Homo sapiens: one gene and its partners. The protein of the gene in region 4 interacts with the protein of the main gene of each other region in a pairwise test. Each region holds a gene or a part of one and is shown on either strand. Other genes may lie near its edges. The genes, in order: DES, NOTCH2NLA, CTAG1A and LONRF3.

What was found.
Region 1: the proteins of LONRF3 (region 4) and DES interact in binary tests that used the Homo sapiens proteins (3 or more experiments, as listed by UniProt).
Region 2: the proteins of LONRF3 (region 4) and NOTCH2NLA interact in binary tests that used the Homo sapiens proteins (3 or more experiments, as listed by UniProt).
Region 3: the proteins of LONRF3 (region 4) and CTAG1A interact in binary tests that used the Homo sapiens proteins (3 or more experiments, as listed by UniProt).

Annotation. Positions count from the first base shown.
Region 1 is NC_000002.12:219,414,001-219,421,376, reverse strand, and holds the start of DES (desmin), read right to left. Parts: upstream 3,001-7,376; 5' UTR 2,915-3,000; coding exon 2,337-2,914; intron 1,283-2,336; coding exon 1,222-1,282; intron 1,127-1,221; coding exon 1,031-1,126; intron 883-1,030; coding exon 721-882; intron 550-720; coding exon 424-549; intron 38-423; coding exon 1-37. UniProt on the Homo sapiens protein: Muscle-specific type III intermediate filament essential for proper muscular structure and function.
Region 2 is NC_000001.11:146,226,007-146,234,001, forward strand, and holds the start of NOTCH2NLA (notch homolog 2 N-terminal-like protein A), read right to left. Parts: upstream 3,016-7,995; 5' UTR 2,706-3,015; coding exon of another isoform or gene 2,703-2,705; intron 1-2,702.
Region 3 is NC_000023.11:154,580,541-154,587,339, forward strand, and holds CTAG1A (cancer/testis antigen 1), read left to right. Parts: upstream 1-4,592; 5' UTR 4,593-4,666; coding exon 4,667-4,935; intron 4,936-5,611; coding exon 5,612-5,746; intron 5,747-5,985; coding exon 5,986-6,124; 3' UTR 6,125-6,276; downstream 6,277-6,799.
Region 4 is NC_000023.11:119,005,612-119,012,634, reverse strand, and holds part of LONRF3 (LON peptidase N-terminal domain and RING finger protein 3), read right to left. Parts: intron 6,515-7,023; coding exon 6,400-6,514; intron 3,510-6,399; coding exon 3,388-3,509; intron 821-3,387; coding exon 662-820; intron 1-661.

The DNA of each region.
Region 1 (7,376 bases), on a different chromosome or scaffold from region 4:
CCTCCAATTCCCGCATCTGCCTCATCAGGGAATCGTTCTGCAGGAGAGGGGGAACCCAGGTCAAGGAAGGGAAGAGGACACTAGCAGCCCAAAGAAAGCTTTGGGGCTGGCAGGCAACTCCAGATGGTCAGGTCCAGGCCATGTTGAACCCTGAACTCAAATTAAGTCTATATGTGAACACTCAGAATAAAATAGATACAAAGGAACATTGCATTCAGCCTCACAGTCCCCACATAGGTAGATGCCCAGGAACCCCTGATTCCTTAGCATCCAACTGGAATCCACTTGTCTGGTTTTACCCCTATTGTAGATTTAAGTAGATGAAGGCCCAGAGAGGATCTATGATGGGCCCAAGGTCACAAAGTGAGGGTGTGAACTGCAGACAGGAAGGGGCAGGGCCTGGCCAGGTGGGCAGGGACTCACAGTGCCCTTCAGGGCGTCAATCTCGCAGGTGTAGGACTGGATCTGGTGTCGGTATTCCATCATCTCCTGCTTGGCCTGGCGCAGGGCGTCGTTGTTCTTGTTGGCTGCCTGGGTCAGGTCTGACACCTAAGGGCAGAGAAAGGGGCCCAAAAATGAGAAGGATGCAGGGCACGGGTAGGGATGAGCAAGGGAGCATGAAGCCTCTGGGCTCTCCTCCCATGGATGGTACCACAGGCAGCACATCCAAGCTGGGATTCAGGGGGACGGAGATGCCAGTCCCCGGGCGAGGCCACCCACCTTCGACTTGTACCACTCCTCAGCTTCAGAAATGTTCTTAGCCGCGATGGTCTCATACTGAGCCCGGATGTCCCTGAGGGCGGCAGTGAGGTCTGGCTTAGACATGTCCATCTCCACCTGGACCTGCTGTTCCTGAAGCTGAGCCTGCAACTCACGGATCTCCTGTAGGGCATGACTGGGCTTCAGTCCCCTCTCAGGGCCCACACAGCACCCTCACACCCCTATTCCCAGCCAGAGCCTCACCCCAACCCCACTTTCCGGCTGCTTTCCCCATGGCCCAGTGACCCCAGGAAGAGGGGCCAAGGTATACCTCTTCATGCACTTTCTTAAGGAACGCGATCTCCTCGTTGAGAGATTCAATTCTGCGCTCCAGGTCAATGCGAGCTAGAGTAGCTGCATCCACGTCCTGGGAGAGGCCAAGCGAGAAGGACATGGTCACCGCCACCCAGGTGGGGCAGAGCAAGGCCAGAGGCCATGCAAGGGGAAAAGAAGGGCACTCACCGCTCGGAAGGCAGCCAAATTGTTCTCTGCTTCTTCCTTCAACTGAATCTCCTCCTGCAGCCTGGGTGGGACAGACAGAAAGACAGACAGTTGCGGGTGATAAAGCTGGCAGTGGAAACGACTGGCCGGGGGCTGACCAGGGGGTGGGTCCAGGACAGAGCGGGAGGGCCTGGCTGCTGGGTAGAGGCAGGAGAGACAGGGAGTGGAGAGGCCCCACCCACCCAGGGAGGGCACAGGAAGTGGCCCAATCTCTGCCCAGGAGCCACACCCTTGAAGTCTATGTCCCCACCAGACTGTGTGACCTCCCTGGGGTTAGAAACTGTGTCTATTTTATCCACCTCTGTGTTTCTGGTTCCCAGCTCCAGCCTGGCCAATATAGCTGCTCAATTAATATTTATGACTTTGGTGGCAGGAGGGTGACTGTGCTCACTTGGCCTGTCAGAAGTGGGACCAACAAATATGCTACACTTGCTGCCCTTTTCGTTCTTGGAGCCTGGTGAAGTCTACAGTCAGGTCCTCCCAAGCTCTCTGAGAGCTGTGACCCCCACCTACTCCCTTTTTCTCCAGCCTGTCCATTCACCTTGTAAAAAGACACAGTCTCGGCAAGGCCCCAGGGCCAAGCTCCCCCCTCCCCCCACCTCCCCCAGGGCCTCATCACAGCTGAGCTGAGAGCTGTTGCTTGGACTCTGGGCCCTTGCCCTGCTTTCCCTGTCTCCTATCAGCCTCCCTTCTCCCTCTGGCTACACTGCCCTCTGGGCCTCCTGCAGCCCTTCCTCTGCCCATCAACTACCTGACCCCATAAATATCGCCCCAGCATCTTAAAATGCTTTTTAACGGGGCTGTCCACAGGGCACCGGGTCCCCTAAATTCTCCCATATCCACCCCCTGATCTATGTCCCCAAGAAAACTCCTGTGCAAGATGGGATCGCAGGGGGAGAGACCTGGAGGTCACGGCCCCTTGAAACACACAGGTGGAGGACCCTTTCTCCACATGGGGCAGGAGAGGGTCCCGGGCCCCGGGAGAAGGCAGGTGCTGACAGCGGGACCCCAGACCCCAGGCCTAGCCTCCTGTGCCCTGCCCGCAGAAAGAGGAGTCTGGGGTGCCGGGCCCTCACTTGGCCTTGAGCCGCTGCAGGTCGTCGAGCAGGTTGTCGCGCTCGACGTCGACGCGCGCGCGCTGGTTAGTGAGCACCTCCACCTGGCGCCGCAGCTCCCGCAGCTCCTCCTCGTAGAGCTCGGCCACTCGCGTCGGCTCGCGGCCCTTGAGCCGGTTCACTTCGGCGGCGAGCGCCGCGTTCTGCTGCTCCAGGAAGCGCACCTTCTCGATGTAGTTGGCGAAGCGGTCATTGAGCTCCTGCAGCTCCACCTTCTCGTTGGTGCGCGTGGTCAGAAACTCCTGGTTCACCGCGTCGGCCAGTGAGAAGTCCAGCAGCTCGCCTGCGCCGTAGGAGGAGGGCGTGCGGGTGGTCCCCAGCCGGCTGGCCCGCAGCGACCCCAGGCCCCCGGCCCCGCCCGACGTGCGCGACACCTGGTACACGCGGGACGTCACCGAGCTGGAGGAGCCCTTAGAGCCGAAACCCGCCCGCGGGAACACGGGCGAACTCAGCGGGGAGCCGAGTGGGAAGCCCGGGGCCCCGCCGAAGGTGCGGCGGTAGGAGGACACGCGCTGGCTGGACGAGTAGGCCTGGCTCATGGTGACGGCGCGGGCGAGGCTGGCGGGCGCACGGAGGAGGCGGCGGGCAGGCGGCCGGCCGGAGAGTGGATGCGGCGAGGGGAGACAGGGCCCCCAGCCGTCGGCACTATTTGTATCCCTCCTGACATCAGCCCCCGCCTCCCCTCCCCTGACAGCTGCAAGATCCCGCTGTCCTGCCAGGAAAGGGCGGCCCGTGGCCGTGGGGGCGGGGAGGCCAGCTCCCCCGCAAGAGGCCTGCGCCCCTGAGTCAGCCAGCGGGGGTCCTGTGACGGGCAAGCCTGCCAATCCTTCGCCAGGGCAGGCAGCAAGCATGTCTGCAGCCCCCAGGCGGGCCTCTTTCAGCCCTGGTTATCTCCTCGTCCTGGGGTGGGGGGGAGTGGGGTCAGGGGAGACAGCAGAAGAGAGGCTTCCCTTTAGTTTGAGGGTCCCCTTTTTGGTCAAGGAGAGACTTTGGGTCATTTCTTAAAGGGTCAAGGCCTGTTCCCAGGAAAGGCCCTAAACCACCTTGTTCCTAAATATTCTCTTGAAGTCGAAGAGGTTTGGGTCTCAGGCAAAGACCAGCCAGGCTTGAGGGTGGGGGTCTCTAGGCAGGAAGGGAGGGCAGGGAGACGCCTGGCAGGCGGAGGGATCCTGGCCAAAGCCTGCCTGCCATGTATGTCTATGGGCGAGCTAGCCCTGAGCCTCAGTTTCCCTCTGGACTAGTGCAGGCCCTCTTCCTCCCCGGTACTGTCGAGGGTGGGGCCTCAAGTTTATAAACAGTGGGCTGATTTCCAGAAAGGGTCTGATAAGCTTTCAGTTTCCAATTGCTATGTGCGCTCCCACCCCCGCACAGACTTTGTGTGGCTCCTGCCCCCTGGGTCCCCCGCCCCCTCCCTGATTCATCCCCCTACTCACACCACCCACGCCCACACACACCAGGGGTTTGTGTTTTGTCAGGAGCCGCATGTCAACCCAACCATCTCCCTGGCAGCAACAGCTGCCAACCCCAAATACCAGAGCGGGTATTTATAGAGGAGAACGCATGGCTGGGAAACAAGGCACAGGAGAGGAGCTGTGGGGGGCAGGGGGTACCTGAGGAGGCATGGGTGGGCGTCAGATAAGGAAGGCTAGGGTGACAGCCCCAATCACTTCCCACCCCCTATAATGCTCCAGCCCCCACCCCCACAAAAATGGAGCCCCACAGAGGGCCTGCCCAACCTCCAAAGCCCCCTCCTTAGCACACGGCACTTGCTAACCCCTAAGGACATCCACCATTCTCCATGGGTACTGGCCGTGCCTCTACACCTCCACTTGGCACTCCAGGTCCCTCTTGGACCTGACCCTTTTGGAATGCAAACCCTGAAAATAGAGTGCTCGATTAGGAGCCAGTCACTGGTCCTACCCTAGACCTGCCATCACCAGCTGGAGGGGTTACTAGTAGGTGTGTCCTTGTCTGAGCCCCAGCTCAGGCACGTCCTCTCTGAGCCCCAGCTTGTCAGATATAAAGTGAGGATGGTTAGCCTTGCCATGCTACCCTATAAAGGTTTAAAGAGGCCCAGGCCCTACTAATGTATGTAGCAACAATAATACCTTACATGTACTGACCACCTAGTGTGGGCCAAGCTGCTGAGCACTTCACACCCATGACCCCCAATTCTCCAACCCTAGGAGGTAGACACTAGCATCATTCCCATTTTATAGCTCAGGAAGCTGAGACAGTGAGACCTCACAGCCTGTGGCTTTGGCCTCAGGATGGGTGTGAATGTGCCGGGTAAATTGTAAAGGGGGCTTTGTTACTGCACTCTTTTCAAAGCCCTTTCCCATTAAGTGTCTAATTTTCATCCAAGAGACAAGCTTCTGAAATAGATGGGGGAGTTCCAGATATTCTTATCCAGCCCTCGAGTCAGTGCAAGCTGTTGTGTTCTGGTTATTTTTGTGTCTCATCTCCCAGACTAGACTGTATGCTCCTGGAGGATTTTGGAGACCATGTGGATCCTTAACACACTCAGGCAGCACCGTCTTTCTCATTGTCATTCAAAGTAGCCTGCAAGCTTTCTTTTGCAATTTCCTTATTTTGATGACATGCTGTGCCTCCTCCCCATCCCTCCACCCCTAAAGACCCTGATTCCAGCCAGTCTTATTACTGCATCTCCCTGACTTCAGTGACTGGGTCAAGGAATGGGCCTGGGAATGAGCAGGGCCAATCAGAGACCTTCCCTGGAATTTATAGACGGAACTGGGATTCTTCAACTGGAACCTGTGGAAGCCATGTTTCCTGCCCCCTGGGGGAGTAGGAAGAAAGAGAGGTCAATATGTAAGAAGCAGAGGAGGCTGGAGAGGAGGAGCAGGCCAGCCCCTTGGTTCCTGCAGTGCTTCCCTCAACTTTGTGAGTTGAGCTCCCACACTGTCCTTCCTGGCCTTGGGCCAACAAACTTTCCGTTTTTTTTTTTTTTTTTTTTTTTAATTTAAGGCACTTGGTATTGCTTTGATCACTTACAGCCCAAAGAACCAGATTAATCTTCCTGAAGGGGACTCTACACCTATTTCTATGATGCTACTGGGACAACATTTCTGGAGCTCTTCTCTGTGAATGATCTCCAGACCACATAAGGAAATTGGCCTTTGGACCAGCCCAAGTCCTCAGTTCCTTGGTGAAAAGAGGCAGAAGACAAATAAATCATGCCATCTATTCTCTAGTCAAAATCAACAACCACCAGACTTGGCCCCGAACCACTTGGGACTGTTTTCAAAATTCAGTTCCACCCCTGAGGATTTGCTACCATGGAGGGCTGCAAATCAACACCCCGAGGCTTGGAAGGCAGGTGAAAGAGGAGCACTCCAAAACATGCTGTGAGCTGGGCAGCACCGCTGGAGGGAGAGTTCAGCCTCCCGAGAGGACCACTCAGGATGGGACACACTAAAAATACCGACAATTTATTTGGATGGGTAGTGTATATGGTACAAAATTCAAGATGTGCAAAAAGGCATAAAATGAAAAGTAAGTCTCCTTCCCACTTTGACACCCAGCCACCCCAAACACTGCTTCAGAGACAACCAGGTTTTGGTTGTTATCGGTTCCTTTCAGAGATACTTCATGTACACACAACCACATTTTCTTATGTGGAGCCCCCACTTCTGAATCAATCTTTTTTCAATGACATACAGCTTAGAGATGGTTCCATTTTAGTACATTGACAGCTGAGTCACTTTTACATTGTGATAAAATATACATAAAATAAAATTCACCATTTGAGCCATTTTTTAAGTATACAGTTCAGTGGCGTCAAGTACATTCACATTGTTGTACAACTATCCCCACCATCCATCTGCAGAACTTTTTCATTGTCCCAAGCTGAAACTCCATATGTATTAAAAATAACCCTCCACCTTCCCCTCCTCCCAGCCCCTGGTAAACATCATTCTACTTTCCGTTTCTACGAATTTGACTCTAGGTACTTCATGCAAGTGGAATCATACCATATTTGTCCTTTTGTGACTGGCTTACTTCCCTTAGCATAACGTCTTCAAGGTTCATCCATGTTGTGACATGGGTCAGAATTTCCTTTCTTTTTAAGGCTAAATAATATTCCATTGTATGTATACACCACACTTTGTTTATCTGTTGATGAATATTTGGGTTGTTTCCAACTTTTGGTTATTGTGAATAATGTCGCTATGAACTTTGGTGTACAAATATCTGTTCAAATACTTATGTTCAGTTCTTTTCTGTAGATACTCAGAAGTGGAACTGCTATGTTATATGGTAATGCTATGTCTAAATTTTTGAGGAACTGCCATGCTGTTTTCCGCAGCAGCTGCACTGTTTTACATTGCTACCAGCAGTGAACATGGGTTCCAATTTCTCCACATCCTGGCTAACACTTGCTATTTTCTATTTGTTTATTTGTTTTATAATATTAATAGTAGCCTTCCTAATGGATGTGAGGTGGTACCTCATTGTGGTTTGTTTGTTTTGTTTTGTTTTTTAGAGACAGGGCCTCTGTCACGCAGGCTGGAGTGCAATGGCACGATCATCACTCACTGCAGCCTCAAATTCCTGGACTGAAGTGATCCTCCTGCCTCAGCCTCCCAAGTACCTAGGACTACAGGTGCAAGCCACCATACCTGGCTAGTTTTTTTACTTTTCCATAGAGATGAGGTCTCCAAACCTATGTTGCCCAGGCTGGTCTCAAATTCCTGGGGTCAAGTGATGTTTCCACCTCAGCCTCTCACAGTGCTGGGATTATAGTTGTAAGCCTCCACACCCAGCCTTATTTCATTTTTTAAAGATAGGGTCTCACTCTGTTGCCCAGGCTGGAGTGCAATGGCATGATCATACCTCACTGAGGACTTAAACTCCTGGTCTCAAGCGATCTTCCTGCCTCAGTCTCCTAAAGTGCTGGGATTATGGAAGCAAGCCACCACACCTGGCTGCTCATTGTGGTTTTGATTTGCGTTTCCCTAATGATCAGTGATGTTGAGC
Region 2 (7,995 bases), on a different chromosome or scaffold from region 4:
TCCAGGTGAACCAAAAGTTGCTTCTCTATGTCATAGAAGCCTACAGGAGAGGCAGTAGGGTGGGAATGGAGCAGAGAGATCCCAAGAAGTTATGGGTAAATATTTTTTAAATCTAAACATTCAGAAAAATAAGAGAGACTAGGAATCACTCTCCTCCTCCTCTCCACCACACCAAAAAAAAAGGAATAATAAGAAAGTGAAAGGAAAAATAGTTTTAGGTTAAATTTCATCACCATCTGAAAGAAAATTACTCCGATTTTGTTTAAGCAAGAGAAGAATTCAGCTGAGAAATTATCTAGCAGGCAGCAAAATCAGGGAGTCACTTCCCATTGCAAAGCAAAAGAAAACAAGGAGCAAGAGTATGGTCCTGGATAGCTGTTTAGACAATCAGACATACTGCTAACATCTCCTTGCCTTAGAAACTCCGTGATGTTTAAATTAACAATTGGCCACAAGCCAAACACAGGAACACTCAAAAGTTTAGAAGGGTGTGCTGTAATTGGTACCTTAGCAAAACACAATAATAAATTAGGAGGATTCAAGAAGCCTTCACTGTAGACTCTAAGAAGATTTAAGATTTGTACCAAGAAACAGGCTTCTAAATCTCTTCTACTGCATTAGTTTAGCATCTAAAGAACACCTGTCTAAAAATCAAAATATCTAAATCCTATCCTTTGAGTCAACTTGACTAACACTCAACTTGACTACCTAAAAGCTAGCTAATAATCGCAGCACCTCAGCAGAGCAGAGGTGGAGGGCATAGTTTTACGCACTGAGATCCTATAATAAAAGAAGCCCTATGTGTCAGAGTAATCCCATTTCTGACATATTATTTAATACTTAATTTTTCAAATCACTTTACAATCATATTTATTATTCCCTACAATTCTCTAAAGCAGGTTATTCCTTTAGTCCTGCTTCATAGGTGAGGAGACTACATATCATGAAGATTAAGTTATTTACCAAAACAAGTTAATGATAGACCAAGGATTATTACCCTCAGACTGTCTCATTGATTATACTCCTCTCTATCCTAAAGCTACACTTAAAGCTTTCACTCAAAGAAAAAGGAAAAGCAAAAACACCATCATATATGCTCTTTATTAAATGCTTCAGAAACAACAGCTCTGCTTCATCACTACAAAGCCTCCTGGTCCACTTCTGAAATTCTTAGTGACCTAGACGTGTACGAAATTTGAACTTTCCAAGAAGTATCTAGTTGGTGCTGAACAACCCAGTACTATTTTCGGGTGATAAATAACCTTGTTCTCTTTTTAAACATCTGCGATTGACATGTCGACTGACTGTTAACAATGAACAAAGACCATATTTTTCTGAAGCTCATCATCTTCCTAACCTTTTCTTTGAAAACAGATGTAGTTCATGTACTAGTTTTTTGGTGAAGGTAAAAATCTTTATTCAGATTAGGCTCAGAAAAAGAAGGGGCTGCTTTCCGTTCAACAAATATGCACAAGACACCATCCCACTGGGAGCATCAATCTCAGAAGCAGTAAAACACAGCCTCGGCCCTCAAAGGACTTTCTGAACACCTTTGGAGTGTCATCCGTTTAATATACATTATTTTAATTAATCCTATTAGCTGGATAATTTCATTCCCATTTTATTGGTGAGTTCATATAGCAGAGCTGGATTTGAATCCAGGATTACAGAGCAGGGCTCCAAAGCCCAAGTTATTTCCACTAAAGGGTCTGAAGAAATGTAGAATCTAAAAGTGTGGGTGGGATGGGGAAGATATGATTTGATTCCCTTTCCTTGGTCCAACCGTGTTAGAAACATCCAACCACAAAGAAGCTTTCTAAGGAAGCCCTTTGAATTGACGTATCCACTTTTTCTCACCCGCCCGTGCCCCACCCCCAGCCATGCCAAAGGAGCAGCAAATGCTGCTGCCAGGTTGGAGGAATTGGTGATCGTCACACCACATTCCTGGGTCTGGACACAGCCTGAAACAGCAGCAGAGCTCCGCGCCTCAGAAAGAATAACAGCAGTTGAGATTTTTAAATCATGTGCCTCAGCATGCAGCCACACCAGTTGCCCTACTTCTCCTGCCTCCACCTTTCAAAGACGCGAGCAGCACACCCGGCTCCTCCGGACTTTCGGTGGGGTTGGAGTGTCAAAACTCAGGCGCGCCGCAAAACCCCGTCCCCATCCAAACCAAGCCCACACACCCGGCCCATGTGCCGCCCCCTGGCAAAGGCGAGGCTGGCTGCGAAGGTGCAGGCCGTTTGGCTTGGCGGCCCTGCCCCCGCTCTCCACGCCAGAATCTGGCATTCCTTCGCTCAGCCCCTCCGAGGCCCGCCGTCGGCTCTCGCTCGACCCCAGGAAACGCGGAACCTGAAGGGCAAAACTGCCCACCTCCCTGCACCCTGGCACTACGAAAAAGGAGTTTCTGAGACTTGCTGCCGGCCTCCCTCCTGCCGAGGAGGCGTGTGAGGGGTCCCGGGCCGCGGGGAGCAGAGGCGGCGGGGAACCCCGGCGGTTGGCGGGGAACCCCGGCGGTTGGCGGGGCACCACGGGAGGGGCCCCCGGCGATGTCCAAACTCTCGGGAACCCAGCGAGTGGCCTCGCTCCGCGCCGGCGGCCGAGCCTGGCCTTCCCACACAGAGAAGGACCGAGGGGGAGAAGGGTCGCCCCAGGTGGCAGCCCCGGGCGCCGCGGACAGCGCCCCTCAGCCCGATACTCACCATGCGCGGGGGTCGCGCAGCACAGCCAGAGCGCCAGCAGCGCCCACAGCAGAGCGGGGCGCAGGGCGGGTATCTTCTCGGTCGCCTCCTCCGCCGCCGCCGCCGCGGCCGCCTGGGCAGATCCACATGGGGAGGGGGTCCCGATAGAGGAGCCCCACTCTCTCCTCCCCTCCTCCTGCTTCAAAGGCTCAGGCCCTGGCGCTACGCTCCGAAGCCCAGCGCAAATGCCTCGACTCCCCGCGCCCCGAGTCCGCCGCTCCTCGGCCGCCGCCTCAGCCGCCGCCCGAAGTTTGGCTGAAACTTTCTCGGGTGTGCAGCGAAGCAGCCTCGTGTGTCCTTCCGCCTCAGCCGCCTCCTCCCACCGCAAGCCCCGCCCCACTGTCGCCGCGGCCTCGGCCCCGCCGCCTTGGGCACCCAGGGGTTTCCCGCAGGAAGAAGCGCCGGCCCGAGCTCCGCGCGGAGGGATCTACTACGAGTCACTGGCCCCGTCCGCATCCTTCTCCAGCGGCCCCGGGGGCCGCCGCGCCTTAACTCGATCAGGGCTGCAGCGGCTCGCTGGCTTGACCAGTGCAGAAGGGGCGTGGAGGTGAGCGGGGTGGGGTAGGACTCTGAACTTCAAGCACTGGAGTTTGCCGGGATCGTGAACTTGCAGGGAGAGGCGGTCCTCATCCAGTGAGGTCTGTATCGCCACCTACACCCACACATCCACACACTGCTTTGCTAGCTAGAGGAATGCTCTGGAGTAGGACCAGTGCTGTCAAAGAAGGAAAGTGGGCCAAGGCGCCAAAGTCCATTAAAAAGGAATAGAGCCATCACGGAGTGGTGCTGCCCCATTCATTCATTCATTTGTTCATCCGTGTAGCGAATATTTCTTAAGTGCCTTACTTTGCGTAGCTGTGTGCTTGGCAGTGGGATGATACCAAAGATGCACAAGCAACTTTGAGTACCAAGACTTTGCCGCTGTGGGCTGGGGGATTCAGGGAAGGCTTTCCCAGAGGAGCTGGGATGAAAGCAGGATCTTGAAAGGTCAGTAAAATTTGTATAAGACAAGGAGACCAGCTAAGCTAAGGATATTCGTTGTAACACTGTAATAGCAAAACCTTGAAAACAACATAAATGCCCACCCTTAGAGGAATGGATGAATAATGTATGGTATATTTATAAAATGAAATGCAACACAGTAATTGAAAAGACTATAGCTATTTATGTCAATAGGGATAAATCTTAAAAACTAAATGACAGTGAAAATAATCGCAGAGGGAGACAAAGTATACCATTTATGTATATTTTTTTCAAGACAATACTACACATTATCTGTGGATGCATATATATAGATATAGATATTAAGAGACTATAACCAGAATAGTAGTTACTTCCAGGGCAGGAGAGTAGGGGGTGTGATCAAACCTGGGTACAAGTGGGCTTCTAAGAAAAGAGCTAAAAGTAAGAACAACAACAATAGTTGTATGGACATATCATTCCGGGAAAGAGCCCTCGTGAAAGCAAAGGTACAGTCAGAAGAGTAAGTAAATGAGTTCTGTCTCTGTTAGCAGTGAGAGGAGTCAAGGACGGAAAGGGGGTTGGGACCAAATTATGCAGCCTTGAATGGCAAGCTGAAAGGGTGGGGAGGCAGCTACCTCTTAGGTCACATAAAACTATTGAAAGTTTTTGAACAGAGTTGAGATTGATGGAAAGGAAGATTGCTCTGATAATTCTGTAGAAAATTGATTGTTGGGAGCAAGAGGTGAACTGGAGCCCCAGGACCAGTCAAGAGTTGGTGAACAGTCCAGGCACAAATTTAAGAAGACCTGAACTAATAAGGTAGATTTCAGAAGGAATGAATCTGAGACAATGTTAAAGAAACAGAAAAAAAAAATGGAGGTGTGACTAATTGGATGTGGGAGTTTACAATCCTGTTGGGATGAGAAATCCTACCCATAGAACCTCTCCCTGACTCCTATAGGATAAAATTCAAACTTCTAAACATGGTACATACAAGGCCTTTTCGTCATTGGGCCCCATCTCCTGTCCTCCCTGCCCCTGTTGTGAACTTCACACAATAACAGTATTACTTGAGATTCCCCCAAACATATCTTGCTGTTTCTGTCCCTGTATCTTTTGTTCCTTTGGCTTGGAATGACTCCTGTAGTCCCCTTCCCTCCTCCTCTTAATGAACTTCTAATCATAATTCATCCTTCAGTCCAAAGAAGGCTTTGCCGACACCACAATAAATTCCTCCCTCTAACAGACAGTCCCTCCACTGTCTTCCACTGCCGCTTCTTTATCTTAACACCGATACTTATTTTTCACACAGGACTCTTTGTATTTCTGTGTTCTCAACTAAGTTTTGAGGTCCTCATGGGCAAAGACCACAGCCTATTAATCCCCAGTGTCTATCACATAATAGATGTTGAACTAGAATGTAAAACAACACTAAGCAAGTACAAGTCAGTATGGGCATAGACCTATGAAGTTCCAAAACTGCATGTTAACAAGCACTTTAGGTAAGCAAGTATCATTAGTGAAAGTAGTCACATTGAAATACTGGAAACCCTTTTCAAAAATAACGTAGTCAAAATATTTTTGGAATTTGTCTTGTGCAAGTATGTTCAGAGAAAGATAACATTATTTTTCAGTTGTTTACCCACAGTGTTACCAGTTCGATCTTCCTCTTTACTCACTAAAGATAATTCATAGTGACTTGGCTGCATACAAATTTTAAAAATCACCTGCAAAGATAAGTTTTGTCACTATTAAAATATATTCAGAAGAATATAAGATAGTTATCCCCAAAGAGCAACTCTAGAAGCGACTGTAGCTATGACAACATTATTAAAATAAATGTGCAGGCCAGGCGTGGCGGCTTATGTCATAATCCCAGCACTTTGGGAAGCTGAGGTGGGCAGATCACCTGAGGTCAGGAGTTCGAGACCAGCCTGGCCAACATGTTGAAAACCCGTCTCTACTAAAAATACCAAAAATTAGCCGGGCATGGTGGCGAGCACCTGTAATCCCAGCTACTCAGGAGACTGAGGCAGTAGAATCACTTGAACCCAGGAGGCAGAGATTGCAGTGAGCCAAGATCGTGCCACTGTACTCCAGCCTGGACAACAAGAGTGAAACTCCGTCTCAAAAAAAAAAAAAAAAAAATAGGTATGCAGTTTCTCAAAGTAACCGTTTTAAAGAAAGCAGCTATTATGTTCACATATAACTTTTGTTGAATGTGTTACAATATGAAAACTTACTGCATACATTCTGGTAAGGACAAGAGAAGTAAAGAGTAAATATGAATGGAAGTAAGGGAAAAATATGACTGAAGACATTTTTTAAAGATAAGTTTTAATGATAGAAAAATATGAGTAAGGGCTACCAATTGTTTTAGTTTTAATCAAAACTAAAAATATACATCTATGTCTTTACTGATTTAAACTCACATAAAACTGCCTTCCAAAATAAATGCAGAATTGGGCACTTATTTGTTCTCATGTCTGTCCTCTCAGAGCCGACAAGCTGTAAAAAACTCTCAAAATAAAACTCTGTTTTATTTTCTGTTTTGCCCCGGTTTCTATCACATAAGTGCTCAATAATATATGTTTTACATAAATGCTGAATGAGGAACATATATATCTATATAAACTGGGGAGCAGTGCAAGACTGGAAGAATGTCTTGGTGTGTTGGAGAAGTTGAAGAAGAGATTGTGGGATAGCTATGACACATAGATTGAGCTACACCACGAATCTCTCCATGTAACCCAGGAACCCAAGGATATGTGATGAGATGTTTGTGGAAGCAGGAATTAAAAGGAAGATTTCTTTTAATAATGCCTTGCAGTTGCACAGTGATTTAGACCTTCCAAAAACACTTTTAATTATATTATCTCATTTGATCCTCAAAACAATCGTGGGAAATAGGCACCCCAGTCATTATTATCCCCATTTTGCAGATGAAGAAACTGAGATAGAGCTTTAAGTATCTTGCCCAAGGTTAAATAAGTAATTAGTGAGCTGAGACAAACCCCCCACTATTTCTGTCCTCTTACTCAGTCTCACTCCACTGTACCTTTGTGCAACAATGTGAAGCACATCCAAGATGATATTTAGTGTGGGGACCTCTGCGTAGAGGGACACCAGTTTCTTGTCACTTCCATATTAGCACAGAACAAGCTGGCCCACTGTAACTAGGAAACATAAACAAGTGAATACATTCTTTTAATTTAAAATTTTTTTGAGAGCCTGTTCTCTATAAAGCACATACTAGGCTCTGCGGCAATGCAGAAATAAATAAAACCTAGTCCCTGTTCTTTGGAGATCACAGAGCAGTGAGGCAGGCCAACATACAAATAACATAACTACAACAGAGATAAAGCACAGGGATATGGGAAAGTAGAGAGCACTGGGATTAATTTTGAGTCCACTTTCCTCTCATCCAGTCCCCAGCCTGAAAGATATGAACTGTGGTGGCCCACACAGCTGGACTGTAAACCATGTGACAAGAGTCATTTCTTACCCCTTATTCATGTTTGTAAACTCCACAGTAGTTGGTTCTTTGCCTTGCATAGAGTATGTGCTCAATAAAGACCTACTTTCTGAAAGGTTCACAGAGTTCAGCCAAACACAGGACAAGTTCTAGAAGGCAAGACGTTAACCTCAAGATTCAAACTAGCTCTGAGAATTAAGAACCAGCCAGACCCTTCCACTGAGCCTAGACCCAATTAATTACCTCTGCTCTAATTAAGGGAATCAGTAATGTAAGTAATTGTAATATGGGCGATATAGTTTGCCTGTGTCCCCACCCAATATCTTATTTTGAATTGTAATCCCCATGTGTCAAGGGAGAGACCAGGTGGAGGTAATTGAATCATGGGGGCGGTTTCTCCCATGCTGTTCTCCTGATAATGAGCGAGTTCACGAGATCTGATGGTTTTATGTGTTTGGTAGTTCCTCCTGCATTAATTTTCCTTCATGCTGCCTTATGAAGAAGGTACCTTGCTTCCCCTTTGCCTTCTGCCATGATTGTTAAATTTCCTGAGGCCTTCCCAGCCATGCTAAACTGTGAGTCAGTTAACCTGTTTCCTTTATAAATTACCCAGTCTTGGGCAGTTCTTTACAGCACTGTGAAGACAGACTAATACAGTGGGCTTGTTGACATAGTTTTGCCCTTTTATGAATGTGATTATCTCAATTTTATTATGTTAAGGAAGGACACAGTGGCCCACACCTGTAATCCCAACACTTTGGGAGTCCAAGGCAGAAGGATGGCTTGAGCCCAGGAGTTCAAGACCAGGCTGGGCCA
Region 3 (6,799 bases), about 36 Mb from region 4:
GAGCTGCCCAAGGCCTCAGGAGCCCACCCCTTGCCTCAGTGTGGCCTGGATGTAAGACATGGAGCCAAAGGAGATTATTTTGGAGCTTTAAGAATTAATGACGATTTTCTGCTCCGCCCGCCCACAGATGTAGTTTCCTCCGCACGTGCGCACCTTCCCTCCTCCCCGCCTGCAGGGTCCATGGCCTCCATGGCGTTTTAGGGGCAGCAGTGCCTGTGGCAGCCTTGGCCTTTGCAGCGGTGGCAGCAGCACCAGGCTCTGCAGTGGCATCCACCGGCGGCTTAAGCCGTAGCACTTCTCACAGCATTCAGCAGCAGCATTGCTGTAACCGACAAAGACACCTTCGAATTAAGCACATTCGTTGATTCCAGCAAAGCACTGCACCATGACCGAGATGAGCTTCCTGAGCAGCGAGGTGTTGGTGGGGGCTTGATGTCCCCCCTTGACCAGTCAGGTTTGGGGACTGAAGAAAGCCTAGGTCTCTTAGATGACTACCTGGAGGTGGCCAAGCACTTCAAACCTCATGGGTTCTCCAGCGACAAGGCTAAGGCAGACTCCTCCGAGTGGCTGGCTGTGGATGGGTTGGTCAGTGCCTCCAACGATGGCAAGGAGGATGCTTTCTTTGGGACAGATTGGATGTTGGAGAAAACTGATCTGAAGGAGTTCGACTTTGATGCCCTGTTGGGTATAGATGACCTGGAAACCATGCCAGACGAGCTTCTGGCCACGTTGGATGACTCGTGTGATCTCTTTGCCCCCCTAGTCCAGGAGACTATTAAGGAGCCCCCCCAGTCCAGGAGACTATTAAGGAGCCCCCCCCAGATGGTGAACCCGATTTGCCATCTCCCAGAAAGTTTAACCCGACCAGGTTGCCCCCTTCACCTTCTTGCAACCTCTTCCCCTTTCCCCAGGGGTCCAGTCCTCCACTCCAGATTATTCCTTTAGTCTAGAGCTGGGCAGTGAAGTGGATATCTTTGAAGGAGCTAGGAAGCCAGACTCCACTGCTTACATTTCCAAGATCCCTCACTGCACAAAGGAGGAAGACGCCCCCTCAGATAATGATAGTGGCATCTGTATGAGCCCAGAGTCCTATCTGGGCTCTCCCTCTACCTCCAGGGGCTCTCCGAGTAGGAGCCCGCCATCTCCAGGTGTCCTCTGTGGCTCTGCCTGCCCCAAACCTTATGACCCTCCTGGAGAGAAGATGGTAGCAGCACAAGTAAAGGGTGAGAAACTGGATAAGAAGCTGAAAAAAAAATGGAGCAAAACCAAACAGCAGGAACTAGGTATCGCCAGAAGAAGAGGGTGGAGCAGGAGGTCCTCACTGGTGAGTGCAAAGCGGTGGAAAAGAAGAACGAGGCTCTGCAAGAGAGGGCGGATTCCCTGGCCGAGGAGATCCAGTACATGAAAGATTCGATAGAAGAGGTCTGCAAGGCAAGGGGGAAGAAAAGGGTCCTCTAGTTGAGGGTAGTCAGGAGCGTCAATGTGCTTGTACATAGGAGTCTCGCGCTGTAGCTGTGTGTTCGAATAAATTATTTTGTAGTGGAAAAAAAAAAAAAAAGAATTAATGACTGTCCTGTTGGGTTTTGGACTTGCATGGGGCCTGTAGCCCCTTTGTTTTGGCCGATGTCCCCCTTTTGGAAAGGGAGTATTTACCCAATGCCTGTACCTCAATTTTATCTTGGAAGTAGCTAACTTGTTTTAGATTTTACAGGCTCATAGGCAGAAGGGACTTGCCTTGTCTCAGTTGAGACTTTGGACTGTGGATTTTTGAGTTAATGCTGAAATGGGTTAAGACTTGGGGGACTGTTGAGAGGAGATTATTGTATTTTGCAATGTGAGAAGTACATGAGATTTGGGAGGGGGCAGGGGTGGAATGATATGATTTGGATTTGTGTCCCCACCCAAATCTCATGTTGAATTGTAATCCCTAGTGTTGGAGGAGGGGACTGGTGGGAGGCGATTGGATCATGGGGGTCGATTTCCCCCTTGCTATTCTCGTGATGTTGAGCTCTCACAAGATCTGGTTGTTTAAAAGTGTATAGCACCTCCCCCTTCACTTTCTCTTTCTCCTTCTCTGGCCATATAAGATGTGCCTCCTTCCTCTTTGCCTTCCGCTATGATTGTAACTTTCCTGAGGCCTCCCCAGCCATGCTTCCTGTAGAGCCTGCAGAACTGTGAGTCAATTAAACCTCTTTTCTTTATAAATTACTCAGTCTTAGGTAGTCCTTTATAGCAATGCGAGAACGGATTAGTACCGTCAATATTGATGAGAATGTTGAGCTATGTGTATGTACGCTGACACATTATGGTGGAAGCGAAAATTGGCTCAAACCACTTGGGAAAACATGGCATTATCTAGTAAATTTCGAGATATGTATTGGCTGTGATACAGCAATTCCAAAAAAAAACTTGGACATGTGCTTCAAGAGACCTGTACAAGCATGTTCATAGCCAAGGGCTGGAAACTATCCAAATGCCTGCCCATCATCAGCAGAATGGATAAATTAGAGGACTATAAAACTCTGCCGTAATGTAATAGGTAGTTTCCAAGAAATCCAATCGCATACAATGTGAAAATGTGTTACTGTGGGGTTAATGAAATGAATGAGGCAAGCCCGCTGGACCATCCAAATCTGTCCTGCTCCCGGCTGGAGTTTGATGCCATCTAGTGGCAGACGTTGCTCTGGCTGAAATATTGATGGAGATTTCCGGTCCAGTGGCTGGCTGAGACTTCCAGGACAGTGGCAGTATCTCCAGGAATCTCTCAGTCAGTTAGGACTTCCTTTCTTGACTTGATCTGAGGATAATAGGCCGGGAAAATAATGGGGACCCGGAGACCCTCCCTCTGTCTTCCTGCTTCCTAAGACAGGGTCACATGCACTTTACTCTCCCTTCCCTGACCTGTTGAAGGTAAGAACTTTAGCCTGCCTCTGTCTGAGAATGGGGAGACTGAGCAGAGGACGACAGGAAGGATGGCAATCACTAACCGGGTTATGTCTGATTTTCAGCTATTCCAGGTGTTAACAAGTTGTGTTCTCTGGTTTTTAAAATTCATCATTTAATGAAATATATGTAATGAAATACAGCAGTGAAAATAATAAACTGGAGGTACACGCAAGAGCTTGGGTGAATTTTTCTTTTCTGTAAGTAAAAACATTTTTAACTGATGTATGATAACTCTGCATATTTATGGGATACATGTGATATTCTGATACATGCACACGCACACACGATGTAATGATCAAGTCGGGGTATTTAGGATCTCCACCACCTCAAGCATTTATCATTTCTTTTTTTGGGGAACATTTCCTATCTTTTAGCTATTTTGAAATATACAATAAATAATTACCTATAGTCCCTCTACGGTGCTATCAAACACTAGAACTTAATCCTTCTATGCAACTATATGTTTGTCCCCATTAACCTCCCCACCCTCCCCACCTTTCCCAGCGTCTGGTAACCATCATTCTGCTCTACCTCCAAAAGATCAACGTTTTTAGTTTCCACATGAGTGCCAATATGCTTTTCCCAGGTGCAGAGGCTGCTGATTCCTGGATTTGGAAGGTGGGGGAGAGTGGTTTGGATTTCAGTACCTCCCCCTTCCTCAGGGCTAGGCCCTGTCTGGTCACCTCCTGTTGCTACAGGTGTGCCTGGCACAGACATTCAGCTCCCGGGGCCGTGCCGCCCTCACCCCTGCATGCCTCTAGAGGTACCTGTCCCGTGGATTTGACCCCCTTCCAGACACACAAATAGATCACCACTGAGCAGACACAGGGTCACCTCCCAGCTCCCTACCAGGCAAGAGCGACCAGGGCAGGGACTGATACTGCCGAACCCAGGAGCCAGGCCCGACCCAGCCTCAGGTCCAGCAGGTCCCGCCTGTCCACCTGGGCCAGGCCTAGAGCCCGGGAGCCCCTGGCTGGTGGGAGGCCACCCGCAACCCACCCCACACGCAGCTCCAGCTCCCCCACCAGGCGGGGCGACTAGGACAGGGACAGAACCCGTTGAACCCAGGAGTGAGATCCGGCCCCGGGTCCCGCTGGGCCCTCCCGTCCACCTTGGCTGGACCTGGCGCCTGGGAGACCTTGGCTGGCGCGAGGCCACGCCCACCAGACATGCAGTTCCAGCTACCCCACCAGCTGGGCGACCAGGACAGGGACGGAGGCTGCTGAGCCCAGTTAGAGGCCTGCCCCCCGGGGTCTGTCCTGGGCGCTCCCCCAAGGACGGACAGGGCAGGCAGGGTCCGGGACGATGGCCGCACAGTCCCGGCCCCGTGTTCCCAGGCCCGTCTTGCTCCTCGATGTGAGGGAGACCCGGGGGATGGGACAGGCTGGGCCCCGCAGTGCCTGACTCCCTGCAGGGCTCCCGGGACAGGGGTCCGGCGGACAGCCGGCTGCTCAGGGGTGAGGGGTCCAAGCTGGCATTGCGGCCACCTTCCGGCCCGGGCTCTCTTGGGGAGGGGCGGGGTTGGTGAGAACCGGTCACGTGCTCCGGGGCTCACTCGGGGTCTCCCAGGGCCGGAAGTAGGGCCCCTGTGCGCAGGCGCCCTGAGGATCCCGGGCTGCCCATCTCACGCCAGGGGGCGGAACTTCCTGCAGCCTCTCTGCCTCCGCATCCTCGTGGGCCCTGACCTTCTCTCTGAGAGCCGGGCAGAGGCTCCGGAGCCATGCAGGCCGAAGGCCGGGGCACAGGGGGTTCGACGGGCGATGCTGATGGCCCAGGAGGCCCTGGCATTCCTGATGGCCCAGGGGGCAATGCTGGCGGCCCAGGAGAGGCGGGTGCCACGGGCGGCAGAGGTCCCCGGGGCGCAGGGGCAGCAAGGGCCTCGGGGCCGGGAGGAGGCGCCCCGCGGGGTCCGCATGGCGGCGCGGCTTCAGGGCTGAATGGATGCTGCAGATGCGGGGCCAGGGGGCCGGAGAGCCGCCTGCTTGAGTTGTATTCTGTTCTGTTCTGTTCTGTTCTGTTCTGACAGTTCTGGTGGCGAGGTGGGGGCCGGGAGATGGGGAGGGCAGGGCCAGGTGGGGGAGGAGGCGGGGGAGATGCGAGTAAGTGGTTGGGTGGGGGTGGGGGTGGGGGTTGGGAGGTGGGGATATGAGAGGCCAGCTGCGAGGAGGGGAGGAGGTAAGGGCTGGGAGGTAGAGGGGGTGGGGGTGGGGGAGAGGGGCTGGGTGATTGGGTGAGGGGCACCGGGTCATGCGGGGAGGGGAGCAGGGGCCAGGAGATAGGGGGACCCAGGTGTAGGAGGGGATCAGGAGGTGGGGGGAAGGGGGCAAGATGGGAGCGGGTGGCGGGAGGTGGTTGGGATGGAGGGTCGAGTGATGAGGAGGGGGCCGGGTGATGCCACAGGGGGCAGGGTGGGGAGGGGTCTTGTAAGGGCATGGAGGAGTCAGCTTGGGGTGCAGCAAAGGAAAGTGGGGAACCAAGACAGCTGGGTGGGGTGTGCTACTGGGCCAGTGCCTGGGGAGACAGCCTGGGGGGGATGGGCTGGGCAATCCGGGGTAGGGGGGAGGGGTGGGGGAGTGGGGGAGGGGGAAGCTGGCCTGGGGTAAGCAGCAGGCCGGAGCCACAGGCCAAGTCCTAGGAGAGGATGCCTTAACTGGGCCCCCACCAGCTACCTCGCCATGCCTTTCGCGACACCCATGGAAGCAGAGCTGGCCCGCAGGAGCCTGGCCCAGGATGCCCCACCGCTTCCCGTGCCAGGGGTGCTTCTGAAGGAGTTCACTGTGTCCGGCAACATACTGACTATGTCAGTTCAGGACCAGGACAGGGATGGGGCCTGGGTGGGTGGCGGTCACAGCGTGGCAGGGTGGGGGCTGGGATCCGCCTACACCCCACGGTCAGGCTGCTAGAAACCTGGGAACACCCCAGCACAGGGTCTCAGAACAGAGACCTGGTACACCAGGCCCGCCGCCACCCGAGGGAGCCCAGGGAGATGGGTGCAGAGGTGTCGCCTTTAACGTGATGTTCTCTGCCCCTCACATTTAGCCGACTGACTGCTGCAGACCACCGCCAACTGCAGCTCTCCATCAGCTCCTGTCTCCAGCAGCTTTCCCTGTTGATGTGGATCACGCAGTGCTTTCTGCCCGTGTTTTTGGCTCAGCCTCCCTCAGGGCAGAGGCGCTAAGCCCAGCCTGGCGCCCCTTCCTAGGTCATGCCTCCTCCCCTAGGGAATGGTCCCAGCACGAGTGGCCAGTTCATTGTGGGGGCCTGATTGTTTGTCGCTGGAGGAGGACGGCTTACATGTTTGTTTCTGTAGAAAATAAAACTGAGCTACGATTCCGTGTCTGAGTCTCTTTTCGGCGAGCGAAGGCACCTTCGGACTTGCATGCCCTTGTCCTCGGGTTGCAGGGGAGGCTCTGGGATTCACAGATTGAAGTAGCACAAGGTAACGGGAGGCAATTTGGGAAATGGGGGAAAATGAAAAGCCACTGGGTCCCGCCATTCAGCATTAACTACTGTGGACATTTTAGAATATTTTCCTCAATATACTTGCATTTATATGTTAAATATATGACAGTAGCATATATAATGTTTTTCCAGGTCAGCATTAAATTTTTTCCCAAATTGTTTTCATTGAACATATGAGCTTTTTTACTTGGGAAAAATTCTTTGAAAACGTACTTGAATAGATGCATAGAACCAGCATTATCATATCACTGTTAAGCATGTGATATGGGTTGGGCATGGTGGCCCACACCTGTATTTCCAGCACTGTGGGAGGCTTGAAGCGGGAGGATGGCTTGAGACCTGCAGTTGGAGGCCACCCTGGGCAATGTAGCGAGATTCTGTCTGTAGAAAA
Region 4 (7,023 bases):
GGCAAGTTTGACCCCCTTCTTTCTCTCTCTCTCTGTTGCCCTTCTGCTATGCCCTTCCACTATGTTATGATAAAGGAAGAAGGCCCTTGCCAGATGCCAGCACCTTGACCTAGGACTTCCCAGCCTCCAGAACCATGAGAAATAAATTTTGATTGTTCATAAATTATTAGTCTGTGGCATTCTGTTATAGTAGCACAAAATGGACTAAGGAAGCCAGGAACTGTGCTCAGCATTTTATGTACATTATTAACTCACCAATCTTCCAAGCAAACCCAATGAGGTAGGTACTATTATTGTACCCACTTTACAAATAAGGAAACTGGGATACAGAAAGGTTAAATAGCTTGCTCAAACTCAAACTTGCTCCAAGGCTGCAACTAGATAATGAAAGCAGGCAGTTTGACTCCAAGGCCCACATTCTTACAAGTTTTATAACATATACCACCTGTTTAACCAAATATTAATTCTAGGGTTCTTTAAATAGACAGCCTCTCACATGGTAAACTAACCACCAAAGGGACAATGATCCTTACAAATGCTCATATTCTTCAGTTGGCTAAACCTCATGAGCTAGGCCTCCCTGTCTCCTGGGAGTACCCCAAAGTAAAACAGAAATCCCTCATTACACAACCTCCCTTTGCTCGCATGGCTCCTCACTTACCCTTTGACAGGATCTCCAAGGCACATGCCAAACTGTCTCGTGCCTGTCTCAATGCATCTACGAATCATCAGGCGGTAACAAGGCTCAAAGATGTGCAGGGGACAAGGAACGGTGGGATAGGCCATAGTACACACGAAAATAGGCACATTCTTATTAAGGCTGTCAGAAAGAGAAAATGACAGGGATCTCAAAGCAATCGGACAGAACACAAAAATATTGGTCAAATGTTAGCATGTGATACCCCTGGGGGAAGGCAGAGACACCAAGTTTGTTTTTTGACAGTGTCACTTGCCAAAGATACATCAAGTTTTGATGGCTAATAGAAAAATATTGAAATGCAATTGATAGTGTGGGCTGAGTCCCATGATCTGATGCAGAGGTTAGCCTAAGGTCTAAGAAATTAAAATTGGCATTCTACACATTTTAATTTGGCTGAAGAAGTTCTCTAGTATCTTAATATTGTGGATGATAGCTATAATTCATATTTTTTCTTACTTTCATGCTCTCCACTCAAAACAATCTTTTCAGGTGTTTTTCAGGCTGCATGGGGAAGGTTGCTGATGATAGAAGTGGACTCAGCTCTCCAGAAGGGTGGTGGGAAATTCTCTGTAAGGTCCCTAGGGCATCTCAAATTTGCAAGGACCCCAAAGAGTCTGCAAAGGAGGCACAGCTGAAAGGAGGAAGGACCAAGAGATAGGCAAGAATAATCCAGCCCAGTGATGCTCAAATGCTTCTTTGCATCAGAATCAACAGGGGCTCTTCAATCAAGATGACTTGGACACCACATTACCAGAGATACTGATGCATTAGCTCTGGAATTGGGACCCAAGGGTCTTTCTTTTTCTTTTTTTTTTTTTTTTTAAGCGGAGTCTCACTCTGTCACCCAGGCTGGAGTGCAGTGGTGCAATCTTGGCTCACTGCAACCTCCGCCTCCCGGGTTCAAGCAATTCTCTTGCCTCAGCCTCCTGAGTAGCTGGGATTACAGGTGCATGCCACCATGCCTGGCTAATTTTTGTAATTTTATTAGAGATGGGGTTTCACCATGCTGGGCAGGCTGGTCTTGAACTCCTGACCTCAAGCAATCCACCGGCCTCTGCCTCCCAAAATACTAGGATTACACGCATGAGCCACCATGCCCGGCCCTGCCTTTCAATAAGTACCCCCAGAGATTCACACACACAACCCGTTGGGGAACCAAAACAGAGCCAGCTCTTCTGGGATCCTTGTCTTATTTGTCTAGTAAATCCAACACAGGAACATCTGAACCTAAACCTATCAAGAAATATAAGACCAACTGCCCAAATCTCAAAAGGATCAAGTTCAGGATTCATTTACATAGAAAGCCCTAATACATCTCAGTATTTGTTAATAAGACCTTAAATGAGATTTGAGATGAGGGCTCAGAGAGGCTCAATGCTAATTTACAGATCAGAAATAAAGATAAAGATCCCCCGAGTAGTTCCAATGTAAATTAATGAGAAAAAAAAAACGATTTCTAGTTTCTGAGAAAAGCATTAGTCTAAGTGAGGAGTGCATTCAAACAAGCCACTGGCAGAGTTTACGAATGTTCTCTACACAGTGGGCATGAAACCAGAACCATTTTTGCTGTCAGGAACCTTGCCTCTGGAATGCTGTTAGGATTCTACTGCGGATGGAGGGAGGAGAGGGCAGAAGCAAGAGAGGCAGAAATTAGTGATTGCCTCCTGCTTTTTCTGCTAAGGGAGCTGTTCTTACAGCCAGGCAGAGTGCTGAGAGCCTCAATGACGCCTCTGCCCCTCCCCTTCACCTCTCACATTACCTGTGCACGGCAGAGAAAGCGCTTGACAAGTATTAGTATTATTACCATTAATTAAGTGCTTACTATGCACAAACTCATTTGATTTTCATAAGAAGTCCATGAGGTGGCCAGGCATGGTGGCTCACGCCTGTAATCCCAGCACCTTGGGAGGCCCAGGTGGGAGGATCACTTGAGTTCAGGAGTTCAAGACCAGCCTGGCAAACATGGTGAAGCCCTGTCTCTACTAAAAAATACAAAAATTCGCTGGGCATGGTGGTGCATGCCTGTAATCTCAGCTACTCGGGTGGCTGAGGCAGGAGAATCGCTTGAACCCGGAAGGCGGAGGTTGCAGTAAGCCAAGATCGTACCACTGCACTCCAGCTTGGGTGACAGAGTGAGACTCAATCTCAAAAAAAGAAGTCCATGAGGTAAGAACTCAAGTTATTAAATTATTCTCAAGCTACAGATAAGGAAACTAAGGCCCAGAAAGGTTAAATGACCTGCCTAGGGTCGTGAAGTAGACTCACTTTGAGGTAGAACTGGGTCTTAAGCCCGGTTCTGGTTGACACCAAAGTTCTTAACCTCATAGCAACTCCTTATGTATCTGAAAACAATCTTTTGGACATTTCGTTAAGTTCCCCTGTTTATGCTACTCCAATTTACTCTTGCCAACAATACCCTGTTACTGGGGGCAGGGCGTACCCTCATCACTGGTTTCGCTTATGCTTCTTCAGTGGTATGCTGGTATGTTTAACAACTGGCTCTCTGGGTGCAGCGGAAACCCTGGTTTGTAGCACTTGCCAATTTCCATGGTGTAAATACTCTCACCATAGCCAATTTCAAGCAGCTAGCATGACATCACTAAGTCGGAAGCTGGGAAGTAATGTGCACATTCAGCTCTCATTGAGCTGGTATGAGTGAAACAAAACAGAAATATGCATATACATACTTAGAAAGTTCTTCCATTTCCTCTTCATAAAGCTTCCTTCGTTCCTTCAGTTCTTCTGGAAGGAATTTAGCTATGAGCTCCTCCATTATTACATTTTTGCTGTATTTTCTTGATGCCAAGCACTACATGGGGGGAGGCAATTAGACAATATGCAATTAGGTAATACGTAGCAATCAGCAAAACACTTCTGATGTAATCAGTGAACAAGTCAAATGACCCACATATTGGAGTAATCTGGACCCACAAATTAGCAGCTGTTACCATCATAATATATGTATTTTCTGGATGTTAGTTTCATTTAAAAAAACACACATGCAATTGATTATCTTTATAATTAGAAAAAAATTTTTAACAAGGGGGTAAAACCTGCATTGAAGTTTTAAAACTCTCACAGTTTTTCTGAAACACTGAAATCAAGATCATGTTCTTGTCCAAAAAGTAGGGTGGGGGGAATTCTTCCCTTTCCATTTTCTGATGATTGTATTTACAAGCTCACAGAAATTGTCTCCATCTGGGATATGCTCAAAGTTAGTGGCCAAAAGTTTCAGGGAACTAAAAAGCAATTTTCAATCACTGAACCTTTCCTGCCCTGTCCCACTCCCAGCCTAACCCAATGCTTGGCTTCTGGATATTGCCAAATATACCTATTTTTTCTCTTTTAATTTTAGTTTAAAAAAACACAAACAGCTAAATATTGATTTGTCTATTTGCCTTTCTAATATACCATCTAGGTATCACTGAGATTAAAAGTCATGATTTCAAGAACTGGACTCAGGCTCAATTGTCACTGTTACTCTCCTCCCAAACACCCCTGTCCGATGCATACCCAGGGATGTTTAGGTAGTGGGTATTTAACGGTGTGAATCAAACAACTGATGTTAAAACATCTGCAGAGAATTGCTTGCTATGGAAACTACCCCTACAGTCCCAGCAGGGGGAGCGCCTGAGTATAAAACTGTTGGCTTCAAACAATTTTGTTCCTTTCTCAGTATGGGCTGTGTCTCTATTCTGCAGTGAAAATGATTGGAATATTTAATTCTATGTAAAATGGTGCAAGTGTGACCCTATGTGAATAAACAGAGATAGATGAGAATATCTTCTAGACCCCAAGTCCTGAACTCTATAGCATCTGTCTCCAGGATGCCTTATCTGCCACTGTCACTGCCATTGCCTGGCTATGGGAAAATCAACTGCATTTCCCAGTCCCAGTTGTGGGGGATAAGCATTGACTGAGGAGGTAGTCAGTCTAAAAAGTAGGTGACTCCTCTGCTGATACTAAAACAAAAAGCCAGAAAAGGCACATACTAAAATGTTAACTAACAGTGGTTTTCTCTAGGTACTGAGCATATGGGTAGATTTTTCTTCTTTCCACTTAATCTGAATTTTCCAGTGCTACAACAACACAGATGTATTATTTCAGTATAAGGATCAAGGACTTCTCACCTACAATCAGGCCTGCAAATCCTACAACTTTATCCAGGGAAAGGTATGACATTGACCCTCCTCCCAATCCCAACGCATACCCTCAGGGCTACCAGTGATGATGATTTCACTCCATTCCCTTAATTTAAATACTGGGGTGATGGTAAAGCTCAACATGTGACTTCTCTTGACCTGTAGTCACCTAGAGATAGCCTTGCATCTCCAACCTCTCCTCAGGAATGACAGGGGTCAAGGAACATTAACACCGATTGTAAAATGTGGCAGATAAGTCCCTGAGGGAGGGAAAACAAGATAGATTCTCAGGTCTTCTTTATCTGTAGGAAATTCCTTCAGGTTCACTTGAAAAACAAAGGTGGGAGTTTGTGTGATTAGTTTTAGAGAACCTGGAAGTCCTAGAGGGCTGCGGTCTGCAAAAGCTCTAGGGCTTCCAGGTACAGTGGCTCCTGATGGGTTGGACAAGGATCACACTGAAGTTCTGTGAGGTTCTTCTGGGGCCTTTGGAGCTGTTATCTTCAAGCCACAGAATAAACACTGATGATAAGGGAACATCAGGGCTTACCTAGTCCAATCCTAGAGGGGACAAAAGATTTACTCAAGATTACAGTGTATCAGGTGCCACGATGACATTAGAACCAGGATCCAAGTTTATCATCTATTTAATACTTTCGTTTCCAACACAAATTAATTTCCCTACTTACACTGCATAAAAAGCTGCATGTTGCCTCATTTTCCTGAAGGACTTTATGGAGAGGGGGACAGTGGCTATAAGACAGGAGAAATAGGCTGGGCGTGGTGGCTCATGCCTGTAATCCCAGCACTTTGGGAGGCTGAGGTGGGTGGATCACCTGAGGTCAGGAGTTCGAGACCAGCCTGACCAATATGGTGAAACCCCATTTCTACTAAAAATACAAAAATTAGGCCGGGCGTGGTGGCTCACGCCTGTAATCCCAGCACTTTGGGAGGCCGAGGCGGGTGGATCATGAGGTCAGGAGATCCAGATCATCCTGGTTAACACGGTGAAACCCCGTCTCTACTAAAAATACAAAAAATTAGCCAGGCGTGGTGGCGGGCGCCTGTAGTCCCAGCTACTCGGGGAGGCTGAGGCAGGAGAATGGCATGAACCCGGGAGGCGGAGCTTGCAGTGAGTGGAGATCACGTCACTGCCCTCCAGCCTGGGCGACAGAGCGAGACTCCGTCTCAACAAAACAAAACAAAACAAAACAAAACAAAACAAAAATTAGCCGAGCGTGGTGGCATGCGCCTGTAATCCCAGCTACTTGGGAGGCTGAGGCAGGAGAACTGCTGGAACCCAGGAGGCGGAGGTTGCAGTGACCCGCGATCACGCCACTGCACTCCAGCCTGGGTGGGAGAGTGGAGACTCAGTCAAAAAAAAAAAAAAAAAAAAAGAAGACAGGAGAAATAGATGGTTTGAGGGAGTAATGTGCCCTACCACAGTGCCGTGGCTGGGGGTCCAGTTGAACACTGTCTTAGTGCCCAATTCCAAATAAACTAAACAAAACAAGAAAGAAATACTGATTTAAACCAAACAAGAAAGAAATATTGATTTACCTGTGAAAGACCGTCTTTGCACAATGGACACTTTGCGTTGTGATCTAGGCATCTTTCTAGGCATTTTAAGCAAAAAGTATGCCCGCAAGGTGTTGTGACTGGCTCATAGAATAATCTGAAATTTAGGAATCAAAATGGAAGAAAACTGCAATAAGACCAAAAATAAAAGAGTGACTCAAAGCTAAGTTTTTAAAGCATTATTTAGAATATTTTAGGGTGGGGGAGGAGTTCTTTTTAAAAAGTCGCTATTGTTATACTTCAGATAAACATTTGCCTTTCATTTTTGAGCTGGATTAAAATACATTTATTAAAGTTTAGGGCATAGCTAGATCATTTTGTAACATCAATTCTAGTCTATCTCTTCTGGGGAATTCAGATTTTTTGCCCTGTCTGGTCCAAGAAAAATAGAGATTAATGCACAGAGTGTCTGGATAAATTCCATTCCGAAAATATTTAGCCAACCTGTTCACCTGAGTATATGTAAACACACACACACAAACACACACACACGCACACACATTCTCTCTCTTACACATTTACCCATTTAAGCACTTTACATCATATTACCATGGAAAAAAACCGTTTGCTAACCTTGATTCCTCTTTTCGTCTAAGCAATGTTAAT